Linked DNA regions of Homo sapiens: region 2 is linked to region 1. Evidence: fine-mapped expression QTL. Tissue or cell type: whole blood. Region 1 holds a variant in brackets; the other region holds the start of a gene. All regions are shown on one strand. Distances are from middle to middle.

Evidence for each region. PIP is the estimated chance that this variant, and not a neighbour inherited with it, causes the effect.
Region 2: it holds the start of ZBTB20-AS1, and the variant in region 1 is fine-mapped to the expression of ZBTB20-AS1 in whole blood (TOPMed, PIP above 0.99).

What each region holds. Positions count from the first base shown.
Region 1 is chr3:114,377,657-114,380,508 of GRCh38, reverse strand. ZBTB20 (zinc finger and BTB domain containing 20) reads left to right here. Exons shown (of 12, transcript NM_001348800.3): 10 at 105-292. The region is part of intron 7 of ZBTB20-AS1 (ZBTB20 antisense RNA 1); the gene reads right to left. Among named protein-coding and RNA genes, the nearest start is that of ZBTB20-AS1, 27 kb to the right of the region's middle. The variant G/A (reference allele first, on the strand shown) is at 1,708.
Region 2 is chr3:114,350,651-114,353,326 of GRCh38, reverse strand. ZBTB20-AS1 (ZBTB20 antisense RNA 1) reads right to left here and starts at 1,516. Exons shown (of 9, transcript NR_038993.1): 1 at 1,371-1,516. ZBTB20 (zinc finger and BTB domain containing 20) reads left to right here. Exons shown (of 12, transcript NM_001348800.3): 11 at 1,449-2,676.

The sequences.
Region 1 (2,852 bases):
CCCCCTTCAGAAAAAAAAAATCAAGTTATCTTTAACAGATTCTAAAAATGCCTTTTCCCAAATATGCAGTCAGTTCCTTCAAAGGGCCCTTTGTTTATTTTCAGGAAGAAACCCAAGACAGCTGAAAACCAGAAGGCATCTGAGGAGAATGAGATTACTCAGCCGGGTGGATCCAGCGCCAAGCCGGGCCTTCCCTGCCTGAACTTTGAAGCTGTTTTGTCTCCAGACCCAGCCCTCATCCACTCAACACATTCACTGACAAACTCTCACGCTCACACCGGGTCATCTGATTGTGAGTACACCACTAAGGTGATGGTGTCTTTGCAGTGCTTGGAGTAGTGCTTCTACCCTGGGTTCTGGCTTTTCTACTTTCAGAGCGAGCTCTTTGCATTTGGTCTTCTAAAGCAGCCAAAAGTAATGTGCCACCATTTTCATTCAGCCAATATCTATAAGTTTGCAAAGCTAGAGTGTATTTAAAAGCCAGGTGACATGCCATTTGGCCTTAAAGGGCTGATTAATTACATAAAACACGTTCTTTTCATAACACTAACCCAGAAAATGAAGTTTTGTTGCTGGTATCCATTTATTCTTGATCTGGATAATGGCACTTCCACAATTACTAAATTGAACAACCAAATGTGGACCTCAGAAGGCCAGTTAGACACAAGGAAACATCCATTTTGAAATTACATAACACAAGTCAGATTTGCATTAGTTATTGGAGTCTCATGTAGCTTGGCTGAATTTCTGTCTTTCCAGTTTTTAATTTATTTTGAAGTGGTTAAAGGATAGCATAAATTTACAGAAGAAAAGAGAATGGCTTCCAAGAATTCAGAAGCCACCCAGACTTCACACAGCCAATGAGAATCCAGGTTAAAAATATTTTTTAATTAAAAAAACTGCCTAAGGGCTAAATTTGGAAATGGGCAGCTTAATGAGATCGTCGCTATTGAAATCACTTCTTTGCTGTTTATTTTTGCCATCTTCCCACTAATCTGGGAGTCACTTCTTCTAATTCTATTTTAAGCAAGTTGATAAATCACGTTTAGGAGATTTTTTTCTTTTTCTGAAATGTAACCCAATACTTCAGAGAAAAAGAAACATGTGTGTTGACAATGGAAAGGAATGAAATAACTTTGGAGTCGAATCCAAAAGAATATTCCTTTTAGTCTTAACATACCCAACAACTCTTCTGAACTGATCTCCATAAAGGATGTCTGGTAACATGCAAATAACTGGCATATTCTTCTTTAAAATGAGTAACATAAGACCTGCAAAGTTTTATTTCAAAAATAAAATTTTGTCCACAAAGACAAAAATTATTAGGAAATGAGATTCTAAATCTTTTATTGTTATTTTTCTGACAGAACAAATGTAAAATTCTGCAAAGAAGGCAAGAGACAATGGTCCAGGAGATTCCATTCTCTACTTGCTTCATCATGATAGTCTCTAAAGAGAGGGAAATGAGCTGGCGGCAGGATTGGGGTGAAGAGAGCTTGTTCTATTTAAGGTTGGGCTAAGACCATATTCTAGCCGTCACTAGAAAATGAAAAGGGAAGTAACGTGAGACAAATCTCTGTGGCCTATGTGATTTGAACAGTCGAAGTTGAGGCTTCTATAGAGAAACCAGGGGGCAGAAGCAGGGACTGTGTTCTGAGGACCGTCCTAATAGTCACATCCTTGGACCTTCTTGCCTGGCAATCTTCA[G/A]TGTAATAGTAATGACAGAAAGAATTGGAAAGTAGAGTGGCACAGTGCCCATAGGCATGTGCACACTGTCCCTTCCCACCAGGAAAATAGCCCGTTCCTGTGGTGAAGGGCCTGGAGTTTCTACATGCAGGTCTTCATTACCCAGCTTTCTGCCACACCTTATGGGTATGGATTACATAGAATTGCCTTAGGCTAGAAATCTTCTGTTACAGCAAAAATGAATGTTTTGTGAATAGAAAAAGCATTGGGCTTCACTTATTGTGCTTTATCATAAGCATCCTCTGGCCAGGCCTTAGCATTGGCATGAAGTAAGTTTCAGGAACAGCGTGAGTATGGTGTCACCATACATCTCCTTGGTGGCCCTGGGGAAGCCAGTGGATGTGAGCTCAGTTGGAAAAACAAACCAGGAGGAGAAACCTGATCTCCAGCTGTTTTTAGACAGTCACTTTGATTTTGCCATTAAGATGTGTAAGTCTTCTCTGTTCCAACCTGTTGTTTAAATTGATTATACTTTTCTCCAAATATATTTGGATTGTAGTTTGTCCTGATTTGAGCCTACACTTAGAAGAAAATTGTTTTTAGGAAAGATTCACAGAAATCTGTCCATTTGGAGATTGCTTGAGAGAAGACAGGAAAAAGGTTTATTTTAAGCTGTTAAAATTTTTGGATGCTCTTCTTGCATTCAAGAGGATTTTTTTTTTTTTACTTTCAAATGTCATTCTTACCATAGATTAATTTAAAAGCCTAATTTCTTTAAGGTAAAATATTCAGTTCCTATTTAGAACTAACAGATTTGGGGCATTTAAAAATAGTGCCCTTGACTTGTTAGTCTCTTTAACTTCAGAAACATTCCACCAGTGTGTGTTGTTCCAAGCTTTCACAAGTGCTTGAATTTTTATAGCACCTTTTTATTTGTCATGTGTTTAGCAAAATTATTCTTAGTCATGATTTAATGCCCATATCCTGTCAGTATGATCCTTCCCAATTTACAGATGAGAAAACTGAGAAAATTGACACCCAGGTAGATGGAAGACTCGCTTGTGGTTAACTCATTTGGGTACCGAGGGGTGTTTATGGATTTGCTCTCATTGTGAGAGCATTTCTTATTGGAATTCTCTGTTCTGAGCCCAAAGACGGCATTCCTG
Region 2 (2,676 bases), 27 kb after region 1:
AAGGTAGAGCGGAAAGAGTTTGAGGAGGTAGGCCTTCTTCCTATCTGCAGGCTGTTACCTCTCAGGTGGCTTCTCACAAGACAGAGAGATTTGGGTCCAGGCCAACAATCAGTGCTTGGGCCATTTGGTTTTGAAAGCCCACTTATTTCACTTTCCCAAGCTGATTGTTCAGTTGTAAAGGCAAGAATGGGGAATCTGATTGAAGAATTATTTGGAGGGGGATTCTCTAGAGCCATCTGAGAGATGAGCTAGAAAAATAGAAAAGCCCTAAGATCTACTGCTGTAGCCACCTGTTTTCTTTCTCATTCTGAATCCAAATCTTATCAATAGTATCCCTTGCCATAACAGCCTACGTTATAGGGTGGCGCTGGGTCAGGCTATCCGCAGCCTCCACATAGCTGTTGCCTTCCTCCTGGGAGCTGTTTAATACTTCCCTGTGGCAAGTACATAAAGCACCCTATTACCCAAGGAGATCATATATCCCACTTCTGGCTTACTCCTGCTATCCTGGCCTAATTATTAACAATGCTCTCTTTCACTCTTGAAAGTGCCCTGTTTGCATAATAAATATGATCACCAATGTACTGTAGTCTCCTGGGTCAGAACTGCCATCTCTGACCTTTTTAACATTCCTCCTTCATTAAGCCTCAGAAAATTCAGAAAACCTTCCATATCACATGCAACCACCCTAGAAAGTGCTCAAACAGGTTGTCAGAGATGACAAGAAGAATGAGTAGATACAGAAAGCAGCCATGGAGTGCCCCTTTAGCTAGCAGATTGCTTTCTGTAGCCCATCCATCATCCGGAAAGCATGATCATGACTGTTTGGTAGATATCTTAGTCTGGGTTGAATTTTCCAATAATTTTTGCATACATGGTGTGGGTTTTGATAATATGCCATATGACTTAATAGGAAGGGGGTTTATTTGTTAACTATGAATATGGTCACTGTGTATGAATAAAATAAGGGACTTTGATAAGTTGGGGGAAATGTAAACTTTCCCAAAGAATCTGGGCTTAGGCCTGTCTAAAGTGAAGGCAAAGTAAATAAATACATAAATAAAAATAAAGTGGAGGTTTAGTGTTCCATAAGAACAAGTCTTCCATTTGCCTTTCAGTTCTTTGCTGAAGCTGTAGGAATAGCAGGCAAACAAATCATCTGGTTATTAGGCCACTCTACCTCAGCCGAAGCTCTGGGGAGTTAATATGGATACCCAAAATGGCTGCGGCACTAAAGGCCGGAATTGGAGCAAAATTCAAGGTCCTTTTCCCTCAGGTCATCGTACCTACAGCTTGTATGCCGCAGCCTGTCCATCTCCCCACTTGCGTATGTAAGGGCAGTGCTTCTAGGAGCCATGAGCATTACTCACCTGAAACCTAGGTGTTAGGAATGCAACCAGCTAGATCTGACCCATGCCCTGTTTTGTGTCTGCGTTGACATGCTGCAGGTGACATCAGTTGCAAGGGGATGACCGAGCGCATTCACAGCATCAACCTTCACAACTTCAGCAATTCCGTGCTCGAGACCCTCAACGAGCAGCGCAACCGTGGCCACTTCTGTGACGTAACGGTGCGCATCCACGGGAGCATGCTGCGCGCACACCGCTGCGTGCTGGCAGCCGGCAGCCCCTTCTTCCAGGACAAACTGCTGCTTGGCTACAGCGACATCGAGATCCCGTCGGTGGTGTCAGTGCAGTCAGTGCAAAAGCTCATTGACTTCATGTACAGCGGCGTGCTACGGGTCTCGCAGTCGGAAGCTCTGCAGATCCTCACGGCCGCCAGCATCCTGCAGATCAAAACAGTCATCGACGAGTGCACGCGCATCGTGTCACAGAACGTGGGCGATGTGTTCCCGGGGATCCAGGACTCGGGCCAGGACACGCCGCGGGGCACTCCCGAGTCAGGCACGTCAGGCCAGAGCAGCGACACGGAGTCGGGCTACCTGCAGAGCCACCCACAGCACAGCGTGGACAGGATCTACTCGGCACTCTACGCGTGCTCCATGCAGAATGGCAGCGGCGAGCGCTCTTTTTACAGCGGCGCAGTGGTCAGCCACCACGAGACTGCGCTCGGCCTGCCCCGCGACCACCACATGGAAGACCCCAGCTGGATCACACGCATCCATGAGCGCTCGCAGCAGATGGAGCGCTACCTGTCCACCACCCCCGAGACCACGCACTGCCGCAAGCAGCCCCGGCCTGTGCGCATCCAGACCCTAGTGGGCAACATCCACATCAAGCAGGAGATGGAGGACGATTACGACTACTACGGGCAGCAAAGGGTGCAGATCCTGGAACGCAACGAATCCGAGGAGTGCACGGAAGACACAGACCAGGCCGAGGGCACCGAGAGTGAGCCCAAAGGTGAAAGCTTCGACTCGGGCGTCAGCTCCTCCATAGGCACCGAGCCTGACTCGGTGGAGCAGCAGTTTGGGCCTGGGGCGGCGCGGGACAGCCAGGCTGAACCCACCCAACCCGAGCAGGCTGCAGAAGCCCCCGCTGAGGGTGGTCCGCAGACAAACCAGCTAGAAACAGGTGCTTCCTCTCCGGAGAGAAGCAATGAAGTGGAGATGGACAGCACTGTTATCACTGTCAGCAACAGCTCCGACAAGAGCGTCCTACAACAGCCTTCGGTCAACACGTCCATCGGGCAGCCATTGCCAAGTACCCAGCTCTA